4 linked regions of the Homo sapiens genome follow. The protein of the gene in region 3 purifies or fractionates together with the protein of the main gene of each other region. This does not show direct contact. Each region holds a gene or a part of one and is shown on either strand. Other genes may lie near its edges. The genes, in order: NEK1, CFAP410, ODAD4 and YME1L1.

Region 1 (7,030 bases), on a different chromosome or scaffold from region 3:
CCACTGCGCCCGGCCTATTTGTAGTAACATCTTAAATATCAGTATACTTTTTCAATAATACTGAACTATGGGACTAAAGCAATGTTTCCATCCTTTTTTGAACAAAATAAATACAGGCATACTTTGTTTTATTGTGCTTCATAAATACTGCATTTTTTACAAATTGAAGGTTTGTGGCAACCCTGCATCAAGCAAGTCTATCAGTGTCATTTTCCCAACAGCTTTTGCTCATTTTGTGTCTTTGTGTCACATTTTTGTAATTCTTGCCATATTTCAAACTTTTTCATTATTGTCATTATATCTTTGATATTACTGTTGTAATTGTTCTGAGGCACCACAGACTTCACCCATATAAGATGGGAAATTTAATTGATGAATGTGTGTGTTCTAATTGCTCCACTGACTGGTAGTTCCCCTGTCTCACTCCTCAGATCTTATTCCCTAAGACAAAATAATATTGAAATTAGGCCACTTAATGACTTACAGTGGCCTCTTAAGTATTCAAGTAAAAGAGTTGCATGTCTGTCACCTGAAATCAAGATTAAGCTTGGTGATGAAGGCATATTGAAAGCTGAGATAGGCACAGAATTAAGCCTCTTGCGCCAGTTATCCAAGTTGTGAATGCAAAGGAAAAGTTCCTGAAGGAAATTAAAAGTGCTACCCCAGACCAGGTGCAGTGGCTCACGCCTGTAATCCCAGCATGTTGGGAGGCCGAGGCAGGTGGATCATGAGATCAGGAGTTTGAGACCAGCCTGGCTAACATAGTGAACCCCATCTCTACTAAAAATACAAAAAATTAGCTGAGCGTGGTGGTGTGTGCCTGTAATCCCAGCTACTCAGGAGGCTGAGGCAGGAGAATCATGTAAATCCAGGAGGGAGGCGGAGGTTTCACTGAGCCATTGCACCCCATTGCACTCCAGCCTGGGCGACAGTACAAGACTCCATCTCAGAAAAAAAAAAAGTTCTACTCCAGTGAACACACATGATAAGAAAGCGAAACAGCCAGGTGCCTGTAGTCTCAGCAACTCGGGAGACTGAGGCACGAGAATTGCTTGAGGCCAGAAGTTTGAGACTAGCATGGATGACATAGTGAGAACCTGTCTCTAAAAAAAAAAAAAGAAAGAAAGAAAGAAAGAAAAATTAGCTGGATGTGGTGGCACACACCTATAGTCCCAACCACATTGAGAAGCTAAGGCAGAATGATCATTTGAGCCTAGGATTTCAAGGTTGCAGTGAGCTATTATTGTGCCTGGATCTGCACTCCAGCCTGGGTGACAGAGCAAGACCCCATCTCTTAGAAAAAAAAGAAAGAAAGAAAGCAAAACAGCCTTCTTGCTGATATGGAGAAAGCTTTAGTGGTCTAGATAGAAGATCAAACCAGCCGCAACATTCTCTTTGGCCAAAGCCTAATCCAGAGCAAGGCCCTAACTCTCCTCAATTCCGTGAAGACTAGGAGAGATAAGGAAGCTACAGAAGAAAAATTGTTGGCTAGCAGAGATTGGTTCATAAGGTTTAAGGAAAGAAGCCACCTCCATAACATGAAAGTGCAAGGTAAAGCAGTAAGTGCTGATGGAGAAACTGCAGTACATTATCCAGGAGATATAGCTAAGATCATTGATAAAGGTGGTAATACTAAACAACAGATTTTCAGTGTAGATAAAACAGCCTTCTATTGGAAGAAGATGCCATCTAGGACTCTCATAACTAAAGAGAAGTCAATACCTGGCTTCAAAGCTAAAGAGAAGTCAATAGCTGGCTTCAAAGCTTCAAAAGACTGGCTGACTCTCTTGTTGGGAGCTAATGCAGCTGGTGACTTTAAGTTGAAGCCAGTGCTCATTTGCCATTCTGAAACTCCTAGGACCCTTAAGAATTATGCTAAATCTATTCTATTTGTGTTCTATAAATGGAACAATAAAGCCTGGATGACTGCACATCTGTTAACAGCACGGTTTGCTGTAAATATTTTAAGCCCACTGTTGAGACCTACTGGTTAGAAAAAAAAAATTATTTCCAAATATTACTACTCATTGACAAGGCACCTAGTTACCCAAGAGCTCTGATGGAGATGTATTATACAAAGAGATTCATGTTGTTTTCATGCCTGCTAACACGACATCCATTCTGCAGCCAATGTATCAAGAAGTCATTTTGACTTTCAGGTCTTCTTATTTAAGAAATACATTTTTTTAAGGCTGTAGCCATAGATAATGGTTCCTCTAATGGATCTGGGCAAAGTAAATTGAAAGCCTTCTAAAAAGTATTCATCATTCATCATTCTAGATGCCATTCAGAACTTTTTTGATTCATGGAGTTAATGTCATGTTAATGTTAATGTCAACATTAACAGGAGTTTGGAAGAAGTTGACTCCATTCTTCAAGATTTCAGTGGAGGAAGTCAGTGTAGATGTGGTAGAAATAGCAAGAGAAGTAGAATGGCAAGGGGAGCCTGAAGATATGACTGAATTGCTACAATCTCATGATAAACTTGAATGGATGAGGAATTGCTTCTTATGGAGGAGCAAATAAAGTGGTTTCTTGAGGTGGAGTCTACGAAGGTGAAGCTGTTTTGAACATTGTTGAAATGATAAGGGATTTAGAATATTTTGTAAACTTAGTCGATAAAGCAACAGCAGGGTTTGAGATGACTGACTCCAGTTTTGAAAGAAGTTCTACTGTGGGTAAAATGCAACAGCATCACATGCTGCAGATAAATATTTTCATGGGCTGGGCACAGTGGCTTACGCTTGTAATCCCAGCACTTTGGGAGACTGAGTCAGGACAGTCATTGAAGCCAGAAGTTCAAGACCAGCCTAGGCAATATAGTGGACCTCATCTTTATTTAAATAATAAAGAATTTTAAAAATATTTTTACAAAATCAAAAGAATATTTTCATGAAAGAGTCAATGGATGCAGCAAACTTCATTTTTGTCTTATTTTAAGAAATTGTCATAGCCACCCCAACATCCAGGAGTCACCACCCTGATCAGTCAGTAGCCATCAGTATCAAGGCAAGACCCTCCACCAGCAAAATAATTACAATTCATTGAAGGCTCAGAAGAATCATTAGCTTTTTTTTTTTTTTTTTTTTAGGAATGAGGTGTTTATTAAGGTGTGTACATTGTTTTTTAGACATAATGCTGTTGCACACTTAATAGGCTACAGAATCGTGTAAACATAAATTTTGTATGCTCTGAGAAACCCCAGAATTTGTGTGACTCACTTTATTGCAATATTACCGTTATTGCAGTGGTCTGGAACCAAGTGCGTAATATCTCAGAGGTATGCCTGTATTGTTGTAAAGTGAAGGTCTAGAAGCCTAAATATTAAGATTGTATTATTACTGTATTTTTAGAAGATACTCAATAAATATTGTGTTTGAAATGTATACTCCCCAGAAAGTCTTGTTTCCTAGATTGAGGAAGACTAGGAATAGGGAGTAGGGAGTAAACTTCCTGCTGTGTTACTATTGTCATACCCATAAATGTCATTTCCTTGTATTAATTCAGGTTTCATAATCTTACTTTGTTTAGAGTTTAAATGGCAACATAAAAACAAGCACATATGTTAATACAACATGATGTTTTCAGTGAAGTAAATCTTATTACCTGGATCTGTTTCTCCTTCCATTCTCATTTATGTTGGCATTTTTATGAGGGCTCTTATGTTGAGTAATTGATATTTGAACTTTGAGAAGATTGTACCCAAACCTGCAGGAATTACAAAAGCATTTCTTTTAGAAGTGTAAGATTAACAAAATCTTACACTTGAATCTTTAAAAGACAGTTTTTCAGGATCATTTCATGAAACATTGATAATGCAATGAAAGCGGGTTATTTAGGACTATGTGACATGACTATGTGTACATCTGAGACCAGAGATTTTTTTCTCTAGTCACTGCTGTATCCCCAGCATGTAGCATCATAATGCCTTGCTCAACAGATAATTCAGGAATGAAAAAAACTACTTGTGGATAGAGTGGATAAATAGTGATCTGGTAGGTACCATTTTATTTCTTCATACAAATATAAAATCCCTAATGTATTTAATAAAATCCTTTTTTATAGTTGGTGGCTAAAGGAGTTAAGAGTTCTGATGTTTCTCCACCTTTGGGACAGCATGAAACAGGTGGCTCTCCATCAAAGCAACAGATGAGATCTGTTATTTCTGTAACTTCAGCTTTGAAAGAAGTTGGCGTGGTAAGTTTCCTAAGATTCAGAACTCCTCAAAGTCAAAAGATTATTTAAAAGGAAATTAAATTTAATGAAATCACATTAATCCCTAATGTCCCTTTCAGGTTTTTCTAAGGAAAAAAATTACTTTTTAAGGGATTTTAGTTTACTCAGAATACTGGAGCCTCATTGTTTATAAGTTTTATATCTAGGACCACGTGGTAGATGAAAATATATCACAATAACTCTTATATTACTTTAAAAGAATATTGAAAAAATAAAATATACAGAGAAATGTACTGAAAATAATACTATAAACATTTTTCTACCCAACCCTCATGATTAACAAATGTTCACTTTAAAAAGAATAATGTCTCTTTGGTGCTAAAGTAGCTCTAGGTATTAGGTCCAACACATATTTACATTTATTCAAATTTTGTGACATGGCAAATGTTAGAGGACTCAGTAGAACTAGTTAATTCATCAGTTATTCCTTTTACCTTCTACTTCTGAATCTCTGTCATGCCCTACAGATAGTAAAACAAAGAAACATAGACAAATAAAAAGCTTAAACTTAGAAGTATATTTCAGGTATCTGTCTGAAGTGTGAAGACTGTTCAGGGGTTAAGAGAAGTGGGCTCATAGTGTGGAGCTGCGGCCTAGAATTCAACAGACAGGAGGAGAAAAGTCTACTGAATCAGATAACATAATAACTTCATTTTCCCCTTTCCTGGTAATGGATGTCTGTGCTTTTTATTTGTTTAGTTTCAGTAAATATTTGCAGACAAAATTGGTACACTAGCTGTTTTTTTTTATAGCCTTTGGGTTGATTTTGAAAATAAAACTCAGTAGGAAAATATAAGTTTCTTGATCATTCTCAAGAACTTCATGTAAGAAACTATTGTTCTTCAAGTAGGCTTAGTCACTTTTTCTTTCTGATAACGACTTTGCGTGTGCCACGTTGTTACTCCAACTTTAGATACCACTGTGTGGTCCCTCCTTGGTACCCAGTCTCACATCTCAATAGCTGTTCATCTCTCTGGTTGTAGGACTGCTAATTCCTGACTACTTTACTGGGTAAAATGTTCTTTGTCTCATTGCTTCATATATTACTTTGAAACTGACCACCAAATTTTTAATTTTTTTTAAGTATTACAAAATTCGAGGTAATCCATATAACTGAACGGTTTTCTTTCTGTGTTGTGTTGGTAAATGTCACTTACTTAAAACTTAGAAAATTGTTCTTTGAATCTTCTACATGCCTTTGCTTTCATAGCTTTCGTAACTGCTAATTTCTTCTTTTCGTATGTTTTTTAATTTTAGATAGTCTGGATTGCTTTGACAATGCTAATTAGGAGATAACATTTATGTCATTTGTAGTACAAATGACTCAGAACTAATTTTTGTTACACTCTTTGTTTAGGGAGGAAAGCCACTTCTCAATTACATTTAGTACTATGGCTTAACAAGGATATATATACATGAAACATAAAGACAGTTTTAGAATAACACAGCCTATTTTGAATTACTTCATCTATCAAAACTTTTTCTAGTTATAATTAAGAGAGTATATGAATTTTCCTCTAATTTCTACTTTTTCCTCTAATTTCTACTTTTTCCTCTAATTTTCTGACTTAAATTACCAAAAAATCAGGTACCAAAGAGGAAGAGGATATAGTTAATTATGTGAGCAGTAATCTAAAAATATGACAAATAATTGAGAATTGGCCCCTGTCTATGTTGTCTAATTAATAATATTTAAAGGTTAGTCATTGCTGATAATGAAGGAAGCTTTGTTAACATTTTATAGGAATAAAAAATTTACAAGGAACAAATTAATGAAAACCAAAAAGTAACGAGGATGTAATATTTTTAAAGGTAGATTTAAAAAAATAAAATTATCTCTTCCTCTGTATCTATCTGCATTTAAAGGACAGTAGTTTAACTGATACCCGGGAAACTTCAGAAGAGATGCAAAAGACCAACAATGCTATTTCAGTAAGTAAAATTTTCAAAGTTTATCAATCATTTTACTTAATGATATACATATTAAAATATATAATGTCGTGACTTTCAGAGTAAGCGAGAAATACTTCGTAGATTAAATGAAAATCTTAAAGCTCAAGAAGATGAAAAAGGAAAGCAGAATCTCTCTGATACTTTTGAGATAAATGTTCATGAAGATGCCAAAGAGCATGAAAAAGAAAAATCAGTTTCATCTGATCGCAAGAAGTGGGAGGCAGGAGGTCAACTTGTGATTCCTCTGGATGAGTTAACACTAGATACATCCTTCTCTACAACTGAAAGTATGTATAGTAGTATATTAATATCCTATTTAGGTCTAGTACATATGTAAACTTATAGACTAACCACTCTGAAAAAAATGAACACTTAGAAGAATTGAGAGAAGCTGAAAGAATTCTATATATTTTCCTTTTGGGCGAATAGAAGTGCCTCCCTCTCACAGTGAAATGTGAAGAGCAGAGAAAACTAATCAAACTAATCAGCCTTAATAGCAAGGATTTTTATTACAAAAGTGTATAGTGTGAGAGAGGGAACTAATGATACATATTTAAATTGCATTACTTTAACTCTGTATACCATGTTAAATTAATCTGTTACTATGAATAATTCTTGATGAGAACCAGGGTAGTGTCTCAGAAACATCTCTTAGGCATTTAGCGAGAGTATTGAGAAAATCTGACTTAATGATTTATATATTCGGTGATAATTACTGAGAATCTATATTTCTTACATTGTTCTAGGAATTGGAGATATAGGAACAAAACAGAAACATATGTGCTCTTGTGGAGCTTACATTCTAGAAGGGCAAGTCTGACCATCAACAAATCTGATTTTA
Region 2 (6,865 bases), on a different chromosome or scaffold from region 3:
ACCCCAATGTCCCCTACGCAGGGATAGAAAGCAAGGAAAGGATGGAAATCCCTTCTTGATAACAGGTCTAGGCCAAAAGGAAGACAGGCTTGAGACTGGATCTCAGATCACATTGGTACTGTCAATTCAGGGGTGAGGTGCCCGGGGTGGTCCACAAAGCCTCACAACCTGCAAAGCTCCCACATATGTGAGAGCCCACCATACGCCAGGCATGGCACCAGCAGCTCACAGCCTGGTCAGATGCGTCCCATGTATAAGTGACTCGTGTCTATGGACATGGTACGTTTGTATATTCACTGCTAAACATGCAGTATTTCAGTTACAGCACAAAACAGATTACACCCAGATGCCACGTATCCAGGCTTTTTTTTGTCTTTAAGAAAAGGTACAGTTCAAATTAAAAAAACAAAGGAAAATAAAGAGATAAATAATTGCGCTGGACATGGTGGCTCATACCTGTAATTCCAATACTTTGCGAGGCTGAGGCAGGTGGATCACCTGAACTCAGGGGGTTTGAGACCAGCCTGGCCGACACAGTGAAACTCCATCTCTACTAAAAAGTACAAAAATTAGCCAGGCATGGTGGTGGGTGCCTGTAGTCCCAGCTACTCAAAGGCTGAGGCAGGAAAATTGCTTGAACCCGGGAGGCAGAGGTTGCAGTGAGCCAAGATCGTGCCACTGTACTCCAGCCTGGGCAACAGAGAGAGACTCCGTGTAAAAAAAAAAAAAAAAGAAAGAAACAATTGGTATGCGATCCCTGTGTAAGTTGGGGACATTTTGGACTGAGAAAGACAATGAGGGAGAGAAGAAAAAAATCTTTCACAGACGCACACACTCAAGTTCTCCCAGCAGGGCTTATTCTCTGCCTGCCTTTGGGGCAGCGGCAAGGGGGTACAAGGCTAGATGTGACCAAGAAGAGGGGGTGTAGACCTTCAACTTCCCCGTAACAAAGTAAAACAAGCCCTCCTGGGATTCCTTTCCAGGTGAGAGCAAGTTCCAAACTATTGCTCCCCTCCTCTGCGACCAAGTGACAAAGGGTGTTTCATTTATAGGGATGTTGACGGGAACTGCAAAATAAGCCTGGCACTAGAGAATTGTTTTTCCATTAGTGGTTCTGCAGAATGAAAACCGCTAAGTGAACAAAGTACCAAGTGTGGGACTGAATTGATAGGTGCAGTTTTGTCAACTTAAAAATTCTCTTGGGAAAGAAGCTACAACATTTGGGTTGAGGCTATTTGGAGATGATCAGTGCAATACTTACATCTGTGAGGCAATACTTACATCTGTGAGGCGGCTGCCCCTGGGGAGAGAAAAGATACATACTTTAATTTTGTTAAAGTTGAATAAAAAACACTGAAGACAAAAATTCCAAAAATCACCGATGACTCCCTACAAACCTTAAGATTCTAGGATTTTAATGGCATGGCAAAAAAGGAAGGTTGCCCAGATAACTGGCAAAGGTGTAAACAATTGTTTTAGCTGATTTTCAACTAAACTGTATGTTTGACGTTGGGGTGGTACTTTTTAGATAAGGAGCAGCAGGGTTGCTCCATTTGTAAGACACAAAAAGATGAACTCTTCCTCATGGTCCCTGAGTAGCAGAAGGTTCATTTCTCTCACTGACAGACATAAACAAGGGCGTCTTTATAAGAGGTCAAGTTCAAAGGGTGAACAGGCAACTTATGAAGCAAACTTTAAAAGCCTGAAACAGGGTTGTTGTTTCTCCCAGCTTAGTGGGAGTACTGACCACCCCATGCAAAACAAAGAAATGCATTATTGAAAGCAAATGACACGGGAATTGTAGCCAAAACACCAGATATGCCAGGGCAGAGAGAAAAGCTTTTTAATTAACAGGGAAGAGCTCACTCTGGGCAGTCTGCGGACACCCCTGGGAGGAAGCGTCTGCTCTCGCTGACCCCCACACCCGCCTGCACGGTGAGGCCAGTTGACACGGCGCGGTCACTCTGCTGAGTCCCCAGGGAACCCTGGAGATCTTGCAGGCCTCAACTCCAGGCTCCCTCTTCTGGAAGCTCCTGGTCTTCCTTGGCTCAGTGAGACTCAGCATTACCTGCCTTTCAGCCTGCCTGGGTCCCACCGCACCCACGTCCCTTCCTGTCACCTGCTAGGAGTACCCTGGGAACGGCCGCCCCCAGTACTGATTACCAACGTGTTTCCTGACTCAGTCCTGGAAAGCTCAGTTCTCTCTCCTATTCGACTTGGTCCCAGTGACTGCTGGCAACCCCAGACAACAGACCCAGCCCACAGGGCACCCGGGGCAAAGGCGGGCCGGGAAATGGGGGGGGGCCCAGGCGACCCCGACCCCCGGCCTCCTCCCCTCCCTCACCCGCGGCTCCTTCGCCGCCCTCGCCCCTGCCCCTCCCCCCTTCCACTCCGCCCCCGCCCCGCCCCGCCCCGGCTCCTCCCTCCGGCTCCGCCCTCGTCCCGCCCCGGCTCCTCCCTCCGGCTCCGCCCTCGTCCCGCCCCGGCTCCTCCCTCCGGCTCCGCCCTCGTCCCGCCCCGGCTCCTCCCTCCGGCTCCGCCCTCTCCCCGCCCCGGCTCCGCCCTCTCCCCGCCCCGGCTCCGCCCTCTCCCCGCCCCGGCTCCTCCCTCCGGCTCCGCCCTCGTCCCGCCCCGGCTCCTCCCTCCGGCTCCGCCCTCTCCCCGCCCCGGCTCCTCCCTCCGGCTCCGCCCTCGCCCCGCCCCGGCTCCTCCCCCCACCCCGGGGCGGCCGCGGCCAGGCCCCGCCTCACCAGCAGTTGAGCTTGCGCACGCTGTGCAGCTCCGAGGCCTTGGCCCGGGTCAGAACCATCTTCCGCGTCAGCTTCATGGCGGCCGCCCAGGCCCGACCGGCGGGCGCCCCCGGCCTCCTGATCCCGGGCGGGTGACGACTGCGCGGCGCGTGTCTCCAGGGGCGGGGCCCGCGTCGTCAGGGGCGGATCCTGAGCCGATTGGCGGCTCGGTGAGGAGAGCGGGGCGACGCGAGCCCGCTGGGGCCGCTTGGGCGCCGCTGACACGTTGGCTCTGCTCCTGCTCATGCGCGGCCTGGGGCGCCCTTCTCTGACGCGATTCTAACGCGACCCCGGAAGCGCGCAGCGAGCAGAGGGTGGGTGCAGGTGGCGGTCCCCGAGTCGGCCCAGTGAGGGCTGAACTGCTGCTCCCAGGAACCGAGCGGGGTGGGCTCGGTCCGACGCGCATCATGGCCGAGTGCCTAGGCCTGACTCTGAGCGCAGGCCTAGCGTGGATGGCATGGGCGCTACACAGCTCCAAGTTACGCGATTCAAACTCTTGGAATAAACCCAGGGCAGCCCTGGGGCTGTGTTGATTCCTTGTCTCCCTCCCTCCCAGCATTTACAGAAAAGACGCATTTATAGGAAAGACGCACGGGCAGGTCCAGCAGAGCCCTTACAAGCATTTCAACCTTTTAGAAATCAGATAAGACCCTCTAAACATCGTTACATGGGCCACAGTTACATTAAGACAGGCGTTCTGACGTTCTGAAACCGCCTTTGCAAAAAATTGTATCGGTGAGAGAAGGTTGGCCTTGAAGGAGATCTGGCCAACCCCCATCTTGCCTTTGGCCTTAAAACTGCCCTTAATTATTCCTGGATAAGCAAAGGTAACTTTGGGAGACATTTATAGTTTAAGTGATAGCAGCCCTTCCTCAAAACTAAACAGCCTTTGTAAAGCTAATGAGACCACTGAAACCGCCTTTGCAAAAATCATAACTGAAGAAATTATGACAGGGGAAGATCTCCTCACCCACCCCATCTTCCTGCTATCCTCTAAGCTGCTTTTGTTCATTCCTGGGTGTAGACCAGACTAGCCTTGGGAAGGAATTTAGTTTATAGATTAAACTGAAACAAAATTGATAATAGCCCTTTCCCAAAAAAACCCTTCTTGCCTGGGGACCAGTCTGCCTTTGTAGGACTAACAAATTAAGCTACGAGATTAAAAATTACAGTTTAGGGGCCATGCAACCTCTGGCGGCAAGAGTCTGAACCTCCCCAAATTGCTTCTGGGAATAACATCACTGTTGCAAAACTTAAGGTCAGTGCTTGAAATATTTTGTAGACCCTGCATTCAGATGCAGCAGATGACACCACCCAAACGGATAATCTGGCTCAACCATGTGTGTGATCCCACCCAGGGACAGAAGTCAGCCAGAACTCATTTTGACCCCCTATGATTTAATCTTCGACCTGACCAATCAGCACTCACCACTTTCTGAGCCCATACCCGCCAAATTATCCTTAAAAACACGGATCCCCGAATGCTTGGGGAGACTGATTTGAGTGATAATAAAACTCTGCTCTCCTGCACAGCCAGCTCTGTGTGTATTACTCTTTCTCCATTGCAATTCCGTTGCCTTGATAAATCGGTTCTGTCTAGGCAGTGGGCAAGGCGAACCCATTGGGCGGTTACACTACCAGCCTAGAAGGATAGAGGAGCATGAATTCCACTAAGATGCAGATGTAAACATTCGTCAGCCATTATTCTGGAGGTCACAAGATAAGCTACTTCCCCAATTACTCCTGCAGGTAACATCACTATTGTACCTTTGCAGGTTTCTTGCATGTCTCACACGGATGGATCCAGCTAAATGTCTTGCCAACAGCTCCTGTGGCCCCACCCAGAAGCCATGCAGCACAAAAGGACCAAAAGGACAGCTAGATTTCATCTCGCACCTAACCAATCAGCACTCCCCATGCCCTAGCCCCCTGTTCACCAAACTACCTTTGAACAACCCCTAACCCATGAGCCTTCAATTGTAACCGAGCAGCTTAGCAGCTGTGAATCCAAAATATCTGAGACAGGACTCAATCTGTTTAGAAAGTTTATTTTGTCAAGGTTAAGGACAAGCCCATGACACAGCCTCAGGAGGTCCTGATGACATGTGCCCTGGGTGGCTGGGGCACAGCTTGCTTTCATACATTTTTAGGGAGACATGAGACATCAATCAATATGTGTAAGATGGAAAAAGAAGAAAAAATATATGTATAAGATGTACATTAAGCCGGGCGCGGTGGCTCACGCCTATAATCCCAGTACTTTGGGAGGCTGAGGCAGGTGGATGGCCTGAGGTCAGGAGTTCGAGACCAGCCTGGCCAACATAGTGAAACCCTGTCTCTACTAAAAATACAAAAAATTAGCTGGGCGCGGTGGTGGGTTTCACTCGTGTCCATGTGAAGAGACCACCAAACAGGCTTTGTGTGAGCAATCAAGCTGTTTATTTCACCTGGGTGCAGGTGGGCTGAGTCTGAAAAGAGAGTCAGTGAAGGGAGATAAGGGTGGGGCCGTTTTATAGGATTTGGGTAGATAAAGGAAAATTATAGTCAAAGGGGGGTTGTTCTCTGGCGGGCAGAGTGGGAGTCACAAGGTGCTCAGTAGGGGAGCTTTTGAGCCAGGATGAGCCAGGAGAAGGAATTTCACAAGACAATGTTATCAGTTAAGGCAGGAACAGGCCATTTTCACTTCTTTTATGGTGGAATGTCATCAGTTAAGGCGAGAACCAGCCATCTGGATGTGTACGTGCAGGTCACAGGGGACATGGTGGCTTAGCTTGGGCTCAGAGGCCTGACAGTGGGCGCCTGTAATCCCAACTACTTTGGAGGCTGAGGCAGGAGAATCGCTTGAACCCGGGAGGCAGAGGTTGCAGTGAGCCGAGACTGTGCCATTGCACTCCAGTCTGCGCAACAAGAGCGAGACTCCGTCTTAAAAAAAAAAAAAAGATGTACATTAGTTCAGTCTGGAAAGGCAGGACACCTTGAAGGCCGGGTGGGGTTGTGGGGGTGGAGGGAGGCTTCCAGCTTCCAGGTCATCGGTGGATAAGAGACAAAAGATTGCATTCTTTTGAGTCCTTTCACTGAATACACAATTTGGTCTAGCTTAGTAAATCTGCATTTTTACATAAACAATAAGGCAGAGAAAGCAAACAGATAGGCATGTGTCTCCGGTGAGCAGGGGGATGACCTCCTGTCCCACACCTGTGAAGATCAGCTATCAGTTTACATTCCAGGGTGAAATTCAACAGAACTGTTTGAGGGTAAAGATCTTGAGGCCCACAAGGAATTTCCTTGTGGGCAAATTGTGAGGGAGCTTCATAGCTTTTTATCTTTGTAGCGATCTTATTTAGGAATAAAATTGGAGGCAGGTTTGCCTGATGCATTTTCCAGCTGACTTTTCCCTTGACTTAGTGATTTTAAGGTCTTGAGCTTTATATTCCTTTCACACAGCTAAGCCTCAAACCATGTTTTAAAACTTTTTCCCCTTTCCCCTTTCCTCCTCCTCCACCCTAGTCTGAAGATGTAACTGAGACAAGCTGCTTGTGTTACCTTCCATCTTGAAATACAGCCTGGGAATGTGAACCTCCACTCCGTTCCCATCCTGTGCTCTCAGGCCTTATGCACATTTAGTTTACCTGGATGCCTGTTAAGCACACACCATGCTCACTTATCTGGTCATCTCTTTGCTTGGAAGCTTCAGGGGTCAGCTCCTGAAAGGGACCGGACACCTCATTCTGTCTCCAACAAGATTACTTCAAGGCCAGAACTCACTCTCGGCCTTGAAGTAATTGAGGACTAAACTCTGATTTTTCTTTTTTTATCTTGCCCAAATTCCTAAAGGGCATGGACAGTCATGCCCTACAAACCATAAATTCTCATCAGATGGGTTTTATTTAACCTTCTATATCGTGGTGTTGACAAAAAGAGTCAAACTCTGTAAAATATTTTAAGAGATTTATTCTGAGCCAGATATGAATGACCATGGCCCGTGACGCAGCCCTCAGGAAATCCTGAGAACATGTGTCCAAGGTGGTCGGGGCACAGCTTGGTTTTTTACTTTTTAGGAAGGCATGAGACAGCAA
Region 3 (5,417 bases):
CTAGCCTATCTCTGGGGCAGTAGAGGGTGAGGATTCAGCCCACCATGGGCTGGACTGTCTGGCCCCAGAGCGCACTCATTTCTCTCTTCAATTGATTCATCAAGTATATGGTGAGCACTTGTCATGTACCTGGAAGGTGTTAGATTCTGGGGAGAGAGGCCCATCCCTGCCCTGGAGGAGCCCATGGCCCTTTGGGCAAGGCTGACCAGTGGAGTTGTCAGCTGCTGGGATCCTGCACACAGGTGCTACACCGAGGTGGAGGTGTGCTGCCATGAGGGTGCATGCAACGGGGCGTGGGCTCCTCTGGGGAGGCAGAGGAGGCTTCGACGAGGAAAAATCTTCTACCTCCAACTCCAAAAGATGCCCAGGAGTTTTCCAGGAGAGAAGTGGGAGAAGAAAGGCATTTTTCCAGCAGGGAACAGCAGGGCCAGAGGCACAGAGACAGAATAACAGTAGCTACACTTTGGGGGCTCTTACTGTGTGCTAGGCACTGGGTTAAGCACCAGACAGGAGTGATCTTGTTGGGTCTTTACCCCACTAGGAGGTGTAGGTGCTGTGGGGGGAAAGGGAGGCTGAGTGAGGTGAGTGCTCTGCCAGAGTCATGTAGCTAGGGAGGGGTGACTCGGGGCCCCACTCTCCCCACCTGCGGCGCTGCTCTCGGGCCAGCAGTGTGATGGGCAGGTGCAGAGGGGCATAAGGTGCAGAGGCTGCCTGACAGCTGTGCCTTACCACATTCTTTCTCACAAGGTCTCCAGGGAGTAAACAGGCCTTTGGCCCCCTGCCTTTGGGCTCTCCTTTCCTGCAGGGAGGGAGTGAGGGAAGGAGAAGCAGAAGATGGCTGAGCAGCCCTACCCCACTGGAGAGGGGCCTAGAGGAACAGGGGTGTTAAGCGCAGTAGCCGACCCCCATTCATGCTTCCCGCAGGCCAGGCATTCTTTCAAAGACTGTGTGCACGGACTCATCCTATCTGTATCTGTTCAGGAACACTATGAAGGAAGTGTTATTAGCTTGACTTTATGGAGGACATGGAGGCAGAGGGGTTAGAGGCTACAGTGGTTTTCAGTCTTGGGCAGTCTGCTCTAGAACCCACGCGTCGGCCCGTGCCACACTGTTTCTAGTGACACAGACAGCCTTTTCCTGCCCCAGTCTGTGGAGCTCTCACTCCAGCCAGACTGCAGTGAACAGAGCTGGGGCTGGAGGTCCGGGAGGACAGAGCCCAATGCAGATTCTTGGCTGCAGCCCTCCAGGCTGCAAGGCTGAAATCCTTTCTGGTCCAGGCAGGGCAGCGGGAGGTTTCTGGGCACCTGAGCAGCCAGATGACAGCCCTTTATTATCCAGCACCTGCTCTGTGGTGGCTGGACCCCCTCAGAGGGGCTCTGTCTCCGCCCCCACATGCCCTTTGAGCTGCTCTGAGAAGCCACAGGAGCAACAGCTGTGGAGAGAGACTCTGCGGGGAAGCAGCCAACACCCCAGTCTCCCTACCCTGGCCTGCGTCCTTGTGCCTGGAGAACTGCCGGGCACGTCCCTCTCAGAACAGCAGGTGGCAGCATTGCATCTGTTTTCACCACCAAAGGGCTGTGACCCCCTGAGACCTGAGACCCTCTGCAGATACCTCAGTAACTAGTGGTTTCCAGGAGGAGAATGTAAGGGAGACGCAGAAGGGGATGTAACTTTTCTCCATAACTGATAAAAAAAAAAATTTAGGAGCAAGGATCCCTTTGCTTGTAAAATAACTCTTCAGCTGAACTTTTTGTTAGCAGCGTATATCTTTATAGGAAACCTATCTTTTTCCTTATGTTTTTTCTATATTTTCATAGGAAACCTCCCAACAAATAATGAATGTGCTTCCCAGGGACAAAGAGAAAGTGTCAGAATGAAGATGCTGGAGAAAATCCTTCTGTCATTTTCCAGCACCTATGCTATTTCTTGCAGGGAAAAGAGGTGTTCTGGGGTCAGACTGTCCTGGGTTCAAATTCTGTCTCACTTGCACACTTGCAGTGTGACCATTGTGTGATTTCTTTTCTTTCTTTTTTTTTTTTTTTGAAACGGAGTCTTGTTCTGTCATCCAGGCTGGAATGCAGTGGTGCAATCTCAGCTCACTGCAACCTCCATCTCAGCCTCCCAAAGTGCTGGGATTACAGGCATGAGCCACTGTGCCTTTTTTTTTTTGAAATGGAGTCTCCCCTCTGTTACCCAGTCTGGAGTGCAGTGGCGCGATCTCAGCTCACTGCAACCTCCATCTCAGCCTCCCAAAGTGCTGGGATTACAGGCATGAGCCACTGTGCCTTTTTTTTTTTTTGAAATGGAGTCTCCCCTCTGTTACCCAGTCTGGAGTGCAGTGGCGCGATCTCGGCTCACTACAACCTCCGCCTCCTAGGTTCAAGTGATTCTCCTGCCTCAGCCTCCTGAGTAGCTGGGACTACAGTCTTGTGCCACCACTCCCGGTTAATTTTTTTTTTTTTTGAGATGGAGTTTTGCTCTTGTTGCCCAGGCTGGAGTACAATGGCACAATCTTGGCTCACTGCAACCTCCGCCTCCTGGGTTCAAGCGATTCTCCTGCCTCAGCCTCCCAAGTAGCTGGGATTACAGGCGCCTGCCACCATGCCCAGCTTATTTTTGTATTTTTAGTAGAGACGGGGTTTCACCTTGTTGGCCAGGCTGGTCTCAAACTCCTGACCTCAGGTGATCCACCTGCCTCGGCCTCCCAAAGTGCTGGGATTACAGGCGTGAGCCATGCCGCCCGGCCGTGTGATTTCTTTTCTATCGATCTCAGGTCCCTTGACTGCAAACTCAAATCAACGGCAGTGCGCATTTTCATGATGTCTGGATGGGATAAGCTATACAGCCCTCACGTGATGCACAGGACGGAGCTGGGCTCAGTCAATGATGGTTCCCTTTCTCTGCTTTTGGAAAGGTGTGCTGTCAACACCAATTTAAAGAGCTGGCAAAAACAGTCATTCTCAGGGCCTTTCTCTCATCGGCCTCTCAAAAGCACAGGCCTCCACAGAGATGAACAGTTTCTTTCTTTTTTTTCTTCTTTCTTTTTTGGAGACGGGTCTTGCTCTGTCACCCAGGCTGCAGTGCAGTGGCTGGATTTTGGCTCATCACAGCCCCAACCTCCTGGGCTCAAGCGATTCTTCTGCCTCAGCCTCCGGGTAGCTGGGACTACAGGCGCCAACCACCACGCCTGGCTAATTTTTGTATTTTTAGTACAGACAGGGTCTCACTGTGTCGCCCAGGCTGGTCTGGAACTCCTGGCCTCAAGGGATCTGCCTGCCTCAGCCTCCCAAAGTGCTGAGATTACAGGCGTGAGCCACCGCACCCGGCCTGACATGAACAAACTTTTATCTTTCTTCCCGCTTTTCTCTTATTTTTCAGAAGCTTCACTGTATGAAGATAGAATAATAACAAGAGAGAAGGACATGAGGAGAGTGAGAGATGAGCCCGAGAAGGTGGTGAAGCAGTGGGACCATAGTGAGGATGAGAAAGAGACAGATGAGGACGATGAGGCTTTTGGGGAAGCTCTGCAGAGCCCAGCAAGCGGAAAGCAGAGTGTGGAAGCAGGAAAAGCCAGAAGCGATTTGGGAGCAGTTGCCAAGGGCCTGTCAGGAGAATTAGGCACAAGATCAGGAGAAACAGGCAGGAAGCTACTAGAAGCTGGCAGAAGAGAGTCAAGAGAAATTTATAGGAGGCCTTCGGGAGAATTAGAGCAAAGACTCTCAGGAGAATTCAGCAGACAGGAACCAGAAGAACTAAAGAAACTTTCAGAAGTGGGCAGAAGAGAGCCAGAAGAACTGGGAAAAACACAATTTGGAGAAATAGGAGAAACGAAAAAAACAGGAAATGAGATGGAAAAGGAATATGAATGAAGCCATCGGTAGAGATGAGGATCAGGAAGCTGGTGTTCAGAGGGATCATGGGATTTTATTAAACTGGATTTTCAAGCGATTTGTCTGTTATAGGAAAAATGAGGGTTTTACTTCTGCTGCTTTCCATCACTATTTTGCCATTAAATAGGTGTCTTTCACTCTTGCAAACCCTGAGTCTGTCACTTTGCCTCTTCACCCCTGCCCATTCTTGGAAGAGCATCGTGGAAGAAATGAGAAAGGTGCCAAGAAGAAAGGGTTTCAGGAGGGTGAAGATACGGGCGCTACAGGGAACAAGAAGTCACAGGGAGGAGAGGGGAAGGCCTGGGAGGAGAGGTGCTTCCCACACACCGGTGACTGACTGAGTCCCTCCAGTGCGCAGGACAGCGGGGAGGCTTTATGGATGGAACAGTGGTGGGGCGGCCCCAGCTGTCACAGGTAGGAGAATGCCGCAAGCCAGAACCAAGCGAATGCTGGGAGTGAGGCCAAAGATAGGGGAGTGGCCTGGGAGTCGGGAGGGCAGACAGACTCCGCCTCTGACACCTCTGGGTGGCATAATCAGGTAAATCAGGCTCTCCAAGCTGGCTTCTCCTCTGAACAATGGGATACCTGCCTCAGGGGTTGCTGCGAGGACTGAGTGCTTAGCACAGCACTTGGACAGGAAACTCAAAAATCCAACGGAGCTCTCAGTGGTTTCACAGAGGAGGTGGCAGCTGAGGATCTGGCCTCAGAGGATGTTAGGATTTCACTCCGTTACTCATCTGTCCCTTTGGCCATTGCCATCCTGGTCTGTCTCCACAGCTCCTAGAAGGAAAGGTCGGGGCTGAGACTGACTTTCGGCTGGCACAGGGCCTGGACGAATGAGGCCAGTGAGGCATTTCAGATGCAGAGTTTACCGGAATGCCAGCAAATTGCATGATAATATTTTAATCCAATGTGGTAAAAAAAAAAGTTTTTAATTAATGCAAAAGTCCATGATGAATAAAATATCAAAAATTAAAGACAGGATCCGACTTTGCACGACCCTGCCTCACTCACTTCCTGCTAATCCACGGGACCGGGGAGGGTGACTGAGTTACCCCTCAACACGCAGAAAAAGCTAGTGGCCGCTCAGCTCGCAGGCGCAGTGGGTGGGTGCGCGTGGGGAGCAGGCGCGCGCAGGGGGCGGGACCGGGCCGAGGTTCCCGCGCGCGGCGAGAGTTTCGGGTTTTGGTTCGCAGCGCCTGCGCGCAGAGGAGACGGCCCGCCCCCAGCCCGCCCGGGTGCCCGCTCCGCCCCCCGGGCTATGTAAAGCGGCCGGGCTCGGGTCGTGCCACCGCTGGACTCCCGTGTCCCTCCGCGCAGGCGGGCGGCCCCGGAGCGCTGGTGCCGGCAGAGGCGGCGACGGTGGCGCCCCTCCTCATCATGGTGAGAGGCCGGGCGGGGCCGGGCACGGGGTAGCACCAGGGCGGGAAACGAGTGTCGGGGCCCCTCGGGAGGAAGCGTCTTGCAAACGAGGACCCGGGGCTCCGGGTTCGACTTCCAGTTTTCTTGGTACTCAGGGCGGCCCTG
Region 4 (7,030 bases), on a different chromosome or scaffold from region 3:
GAAAACAAATAATGTTCAGGGAAATGGTTGAATGAATTGCACTGTGATAAATTGGAAAAGTGTAAACAGCCATTAAACTGAATGCACTGTTCTGTTCTGAAAAATATGCACGAAAAATGAAAATTGCAAAAAATTAGGTACTATTTCTAGAGTAGTTTTTATAGAAAGAGCACCTGTGTGCATGCATACAAGGGTAGTCAGAATTGTTAACAGGTTATACTTCTGGGAAGTGGGATTGGGGCTTGAGAAATTAGAAGACACTAATTTGATACACTTACCCTTTTTTCAAAAACATTATGTAATTACCAAAAACATGTAAAAATCAGTTGTGTAGATTCAATCTATTTTAATTACTTGGTTGGGTTTTTTTTTTTTTTTGAAATCACAGTTTATCAGAGTTGATACTCAGTTTTTTAAATTATATTGTATAACCCTCTGACTTCTCTATTTACCTTTATCCCCTATCAACATAAAAAATAGGCCAGGCGCGGTGGCTCACGCCTATAATCCCAGCACTGTGGGAGGCCAAGGCAGGTGGATCACCTGAGGTTAGGAGGCTGAGGCAGGATAGTTGCTTGAACCCAGGAGGCGGAGGTTGCAGTGAGCAGCAATGCCTTGCACTCCAGCCTGGGCAACAAGAGTGAAACTCCATCTCAAATAAATAAATAAATAAATAAATAAATAAATAAATAAATAAATAAAGTTCCTTTTGAAAAAAGGAGGATAGAAAAAACTATAAGCTGGGCATGATAGATTTAAGTTCTCAGACCTAATCCCAGCTCTTTGGGAGGCTGAGGCAAGAGGACTGCTTGAGCCCAGGAGTTCAAGGCCAGCCTGGGCAATAAAAGGAGACCCCGTCTCTACAAAAAAGAAGGAAACAAAGGAAAACGTATTGAAGTGTCAGGCAAATTAGATAGACTAGGATATACAGGTAGGGTGTCAGACTTTAGAATCTTAGGCATTTTTCTTTTCCTGTAACAATTTATAGTGACAGTGAATGGTATTGTTTTATTTAGTTTTCATACAGTCTCGGGGTTTTAAAACTTTGAAATCAAGGACACGACGTCTCCAGTCTACCTCCGAGAGATTAGCTGAAACACAGAATATAGCGCCATCATTCGTGAAGGTAATTAGACCTTTTTATGATCCAAAAAGCAAATATTTTCAAGTTGTTAGAGTGAGGAGCTTCAATATCTGATTTCTTTTGTTGGCTGATAGATATTCTTCCTTCTTTCCACTAATAATAAGGGATTAGTAACCTGTGTAATCATTATACCTCTAACTCTTCTGGGCACCAGACTTGCCTCTCCACTTACTAGATTTTTTTCCCACAAACCTACACCTGTCGAGGTGTTCTCTGTATTAATGAGCAGCATCCACCCAAGCTAAAAACCTGGCTATCAACCTACGTTTGTCCATGTTGCCTTACCTCCCACATCCATTAACCACTAAAGTCCTGTTGATCCAACCTCCTAAATATTTCTTACATCTGTTCCACTGCCATAGATAGGCTATAACTATTTGTTGCCTAAATTACTGTAATGAATACTTGTTTAGTCTCCTTGCCTCTAGTCTTGCTGCGTTCAGTCCAGCCTCCAGACTGCCACCCATCAATCTTTCTAAAATAATGATCTAGTTATATTACTCTGCTTTATTGCTTACCTCCACCTGATACACTGGGAATTTCATCATTTGATCTCTACCTGCCATGTTTCTCTTCTCACCATTCAATATGCCCCTCTGTTTCCCTGCTCCTCTCTTGGCATTGAAGTCTTATATAAGATTGCTTACAGTTCTTGAGCACTGAAGGCTATTGATTCATGCCTCCGTCAGATTGTTCATAGTGTTTATTCCCTGTGTTTTAGATGTCCTATTCTCTGTAAGGCCTTTTCCATATTCCTGAGGTAGCATTGATTTACCACCATACATAATACTTCTAACATAATATCAAAATGATTTAAGAAACTTAGTTATTTATATATCTTTTTCCAGTAGACTGAAAACTTTAAGATCAGTGGTTTATTTATCTTTACATCTTCAGAACTTATATAAGGCCAAGTATATGAACGGTGCTTAGTAGACATTTAGTAAATTAATGAGATTTTTTCCTCTAGCAAAGATAGAGGGATATGAACATTAAGCCAATCAAACCCTAAAATAATATGTGACCTGTTTTCAGTGTAGTGTTCGTGCAGAGAATAATGCCACTTTCTTTATATTATTAATTGATTGATGCAGGAATGGGATCTAGTGTTAGTTTCCTAGTTATTGATTAATTCATTGCTGAGTCTTAATCTGTTTCTTCACATTGACAGTAAAAATTATACAGAATTTTAGTGAATTTTTTTGAGTGGTCACAATATTGTTGGGAAGTATCACTGTGTTGTTAACCAGTACTGATGTGTTGTTTGTGTATTCAGGGGTTTCTTTTGCGGGACAGAGGATCAGATGTTGAGAGTTTGGACAAACTCATGAAAACCAAAAATATACCTGAAGCTCACCAAGATGCATTTAAAACTGGTTTTGCGGAAGGTTTTCTGAAAGCTCAAGCACTCACACAAAAAACCAATGGTAAGTTGAATTGACACCATCCGTGTTTGAGAAGAGTAACTGAAAGGAAGTCATAGTCCTACATTTAAGTTTTAAGTAACTTTTCTAAGACCATCTATTGATTAAATTCCACTATATTTGTAACTTAATCTATGTAGAAATGGCGATACTGCTGATGGTTTCCCTTTCTCAAGAGAGAAAACAAATTGGAGAACAGGAAGTGTGAATGGCTTCATAAAGGTTTTTGTTTCTTTATTTTTTGTTTGTGTTTGTTTTTGAGACACGGTCTTGCTTCATTGCCTAAGCCAGAGTGCAGTGGTGCAATCATGGCTCATTGTAGCCTTAACTTTCTGGGCTCAAGTGATCCTCTCACCTCAGCCTCCTGAGTAGCTAGGATCACAGGCATGTGCCACCACGCCCAGCTAATTTTTGTGGAGATGGAATCTTGCCCTGTTGTCCAGGCTGGTCTTGAACTCCAGGGATCAAGTGATCCTCCTGCCTTGACCTCTTAAAATGCTAGGATTACAGGCATGAGCCACCATGCTTGGCCTTAAGTTTTTGATAATAGGGTACTTACAGGAAATCATAGCAGTTGTGAGAAAGAATGCCAGATTCCAAAATTGGATGTGATGAAATATGATTATTAACAATAACCTAATATTTGCATTTCATTGAGCTGTCATATTTCATAAATGTGATTTCATGTAAAGCTTTTTCTTTCTCTCCTAGATTCCCTAAGGCGAACCCGTCTGATTCTCTTCGTTCTGCTGCTATTCGGCATTTATGGACTTCTAAAAAACCCATTTTTATCTGGTAAAAGCTTTTTTTATTTGTCTAACTTATTTCTTATTCCTTTAAATACATGATTCCTTTTAATGCCTAATCTAACCCTTAAAGAAAGAACATATTAATGTTTACAGTACTAGAATTAGGCTTTCATTCCTAGTAGTGGTTAGTTTCCCAGATTTTTAGAAAATGATACCTGTCCAATTATAAAATTTAAAAATTATCCTGGTCAACAGGGTGAAAGGAAAATTAATTAATTAATTTTAAAATTATGTAGAAGAATTTTATAATGGCAATACAAGCTGAAATAGTCTTCTATTTCAAAGATAAACAAATTCAGTTTATTCATAAAATCACATTAAATGTTTCCCTTTTTTTTAGTTTGCTTATCTGAAATTAAGCAATAGTGTCAGACTTACGTGGTTCCAATTACCTTTTCCACTACTGTGCAGTTTTCACCCTGTGTTGCCTATTCTCTTAAATATTAAGGATATGTACAGATTCTTAAAAAATACTTTGTGGGCCAAAACTATTGGTGTTCATTCTAGAATTACTATTTTAAATTTGTTTTCCCAGCTTCTATGTTCCTGATTTATTAAGCATTTCTCCTTAACCCCATATTTTGCCAGCTCATTTTTCAGCCTATCTTAACAGTATTTTGGGCTTCTTCTGAGGAAATTAGAAATTGCTCAATTTACTCATTTATAACTGCTCTAGTTTGGAAGTTTCTACCTGAGTGGGAAAGACTTAAGAAATCCTTGTAATAGTTCTCCAAAATTGATCTCAAATATTTTACTCTCCTATCAGACTTTTTCTGTCTTGCTTGTCAGACTTAATGTTGTCATAATTGATAGGTCATTTGAGGGCAAGTAATAACAGTTGTCAGAGGAAGAAGACTACATGAAAAGTATAATAATGTGTTAAGCCTCAATTTTTTATTAATGTGTGTCAATGTTTTCTGCTAACTTTAAGGCAATGTGTTTCAAAGTGTAGACCTGTGACCAATTAGAATAATTGAAGTGTTTGTTAAAAATGAAAATTCTCCTGGGCCCTGTGCTGTGGCCTGAGAATTAACATACTTCTCAAGTGAGTTTTATTCACACCAAAGTTTGAGAAACTTTGATTTAAGATTTCTATCATTAGATACTACAATAAGAAGTAGAAAATAATTTTTGATTTTATTAACTGAAAAGTACAAATAGGTCATTTTATTTTATTTTTTTATTTTATTTCATTTATTTTTTTTGAGATGGAGTCTCGCTCTGTTGCCCAGGCTGGAGTGCAGTGGGGCAATCTTGGCTCGCTGCAACCTCCTCCTCCTGGGGTTCAAGCAATTTCACTGCCTCAGCCTCCCGAGTAGCTGGGACTACAGGCTTGCGCCACCATGCCCAGCTAATTTTTTGTGTTTTTAGTAGAGACGGCGTTTCACCGTTAGCCAAGATGGTCTCGATCTCCTCACCTTGCGATCTGCCCGCCTCAGCCTCCCAAAGTGCTGGGATTACAGGTGTGAGCCACCACGCCCAGTCTTTATTATTTTTTATTTTTTCAAGTTTATTAAGAAAGTAAAGGAATAAAAGAATGGCTACTCCATAGGCAGAGCAGCCGAAATATGTCTTTTTAACGTGAATCACTTACTCTTTGAAGATGGTTTAGAAATCCAGAAGACCAGCCGGGCGTAGTGGCTCACGCCTGTAATCCCAGCACTTTGGGAGGCTGAGGCGGGTGGATCACCTGAGGTCAGGAGTTCAAGACCAGCCTGACCAACATGGAAAACCCTGTCTCTGCTAAAAATACAAAATTAGCCGGGTTTGGTGGCGCATGCCTGTAATCCCAGCTACTTGGGAGGCTGAGGCAGGAGAATCGCTTGAACCTGGGAGGTTGAGGTTGCAGTGAGCCAAGATCGTGCCGCTGCACTCCAGCCTGGTAACAGAGCAAGACTCTGTCAAAAAGAAAAAAAAAGAAATCCAGAAGACCTAGTTTCTATTCCTCACTCTGATTTGATATGTGAAGTTAGGTCACTTAGACATTTAATTTTTCTAGGCTTTGCTTTCTTGCATCTAAAAAACAAGGTGATTGGAATGTTATTAATCTATCAAATATAAACATTTCTTTTCTTCCCTTTAGTCCGCTTCCGGACAACAACAGGGCTTGATTCTGCAGTAGATCCTGTCCAGATGAAAAATGTCACCTTTGAACATGTTAAAGGGGTAAGTTAAGAAGATTGCCTTGCCTTCTTCATACATCCTCTAATTGATACTCTATATGAGGTCGATATTTGATTCTACAGTGTATTCTAGAATAGGTAAAATTGTGTCCAAAAGTATTAGAAACATTAGTATTTTGGGATAAATAATAATAGCCAAGGATCAAATCTTGCTTTATGGCAGGGGATAGTATAATTTATGAAGGAGCAGCCTGGTGTAGTGGAGTGAATGTGGACTTCAGAGTCAAGCTGACTAATGTTTGAAATTCATTTTTATACTTATTAGCTATGAGACCTTGAAGAAATTACTTTAGATCCTGACAGATAATGTATGTGCTTGACACATAGTAGATATTTAATAAATGGTCCTTCTTTACCTGTACCTCTTACTGATCTTTGTAACTCCACTATCTAAAACATGTTAGACAATGTATATTTCTTGAATGAATAGAATGGATAAATGCTAGTTTATAGTTGATTAATTTGTTAAATATTTAATAGTATTAAGTGCTAGGCCCTATTTTAGCTGCTGGGATAGAATAAATAATCTCTGCATTCTTAGAGTTTAAACTCTAAAAGCAGTAATTGGACACTGATATGTGATGTAAGAAAAAGTAGAGTATGTTAAAAGAATAAAAGTGTATGGAGGAAAAAGTAGAGCAGGGTAAAGAGGATTGGGAGTTTTGAGAGAAGGCTTACAGTTTTAAATGGAGTGTTCAAGGTGTGATTGATGGAGAAGGTGACATTTGAGATAAAATCTGAAGGAGAAGATGGAATAAACTGCATTTATCTGAGAAAGGAACGTTTCTGACCAAAGGAACAGTTTGAGCAAAGGCTCTCAAGTAATAGGGTGTCTGACTTGTTCATTTTTGAAAGTAGAACTAATAGGATTTCTTATTGGAACGTAGGGTGTAAGAGAAAAGAGGAGTCAAAAAGAGCCACAAGATTTTTGGTCTCAGCAATTAGAAGGATAGAATTGACATTTACTGAGATTTTTGTTTTTGTTTTTGAGACGGAGTTTCGCTATTGTTGCCCAAGCTGGCGTGCAATGGCGTGATCTCGGCTCAGTGCAACCTCCACCTCCCAGATTCAAGCGATTCTCCTGCCTCAGCCTCCAGAGTAGCTGGGATTACAGGCACGAGCCACCACGCCCAGCTAATTTTTTGTGTTTTTAGTAGAAACAGGGTTTTACCATGTTAGCCAGGCTGGTCTTGAACTCCTGACCTCAGGTGATCCACGCAGATCAAAGTGCTGGGATTACAGGCGTGAGCCACGGTGCCCGGCCTTTAGTGAGGTTTTAAAAGGCTGTGAGTGGAGCAGATCTGGGGGACAAAGGTTAGAAATTTAGTTTTAGGTATGTTAAGTGTGAGAGATACGAATGAAAGTGTTGAGTAACTTGGATATACCACTTTGGAGGTATGGGAGAGGTCTGAGCTAGAATTAAAAATAGGAGATTATATTTATATGTATGTTAAGTCCACATGTTTGGAT

The links.
Region 1: the proteins of ODAD4 (region 3) and NEK1 purify together in Homo sapiens (affinity purification with mass spectrometry; 2 studies listed by BioGRID and IntAct, with this or other methods). This does not show direct contact.
Region 2: the proteins of ODAD4 (region 3) and CFAP410 purify together in Homo sapiens (affinity purification with mass spectrometry; 2 studies listed by BioGRID and IntAct, with this or other methods). This does not show direct contact.
Region 4: the proteins of ODAD4 (region 3) and YME1L1 purify together in Homo sapiens (affinity purification with mass spectrometry; 2 studies listed by BioGRID and IntAct, with this or other methods). This does not show direct contact.

What each region holds. Positions count from the first base shown.
Region 1 is NC_000004.12:169,476,570-169,483,599, reverse strand, and holds part of NEK1 (serine/threonine-protein kinase Nek1), read left to right. Parts: intron 1-4,065; coding exon 4,066-4,197; intron 4,198-5,219; coding exon of another isoform or gene 5,220-5,228; exon of another isoform or gene 5,229-6,076; intron 6,077-6,102; coding exon 6,103-6,168; intron 6,169-6,247; coding exon 6,248-6,476; intron 6,477-7,030. UniProt on the Homo sapiens protein: Phosphorylates serines and threonines, but also appears to possess tyrosine kinase activity. Involved in DNA damage checkpoint control and for proper DNA damage repair.
Region 2 is NC_000021.9:44,336,368-44,343,232, forward strand, and holds the start of CFAP410 (nuclear encoded mitochondrial protein C21orf2), read right to left. Parts: upstream 3,024-6,865; 5' UTR 2,828-3,023; coding exon 2,751-2,827; intron 2,336-2,750; exon of another isoform or gene 2,066-2,335; coding exon of another isoform or gene 1,867-2,065; intron 1,301-1,866; coding exon 1,282-1,300; intron 554-1,281; exon of another isoform or gene 457-553; intron 1-456. UniProt on the Homo sapiens protein: Plays a role in cilia formation and/or maintenance. Plays a role in the regulation of cell morphology and cytoskeletal organization. Involved in DNA damage repair.
Region 3 is NC_000017.11:41,961,615-41,967,031, forward strand, and holds the end of ODAD4 (outer dynein arm-docking complex subunit 4), read left to right. Parts: intron 1-3,378; coding exon 3,379-3,869; 3' UTR 3,870-4,889; downstream 4,890-5,417. Other genes in the region: CNP (2',3'-cyclic-nucleotide 3'-phosphodiesterase), read left to right, coding at 5,271-5,273. UniProt on the Homo sapiens protein: Component of the outer dynein arm-docking complex (ODA-DC) that mediates outer dynein arms (ODA) binding onto the doublet microtubule. Plays an essential role for the assembly of ODA-DC and for the docking of ODA in ciliary axoneme.
Region 4 is NC_000010.11:27,130,372-27,137,401, reverse strand, and holds part of YME1L1 (ATP-dependent zinc metalloprotease YME1L1), read left to right. Parts: intron 1-1,016; coding exon 1,017-1,126; intron 1,127-2,420; coding exon 2,421-2,571; intron 2,572-3,279; coding exon 3,280-3,363; intron 3,364-5,460; coding exon 5,461-5,543; intron 5,544-7,030. UniProt on the Homo sapiens protein: ATP-dependent metalloprotease that catalyzes the degradation of folded and unfolded proteins with a suitable degron sequence in the mitochondrial intermembrane region.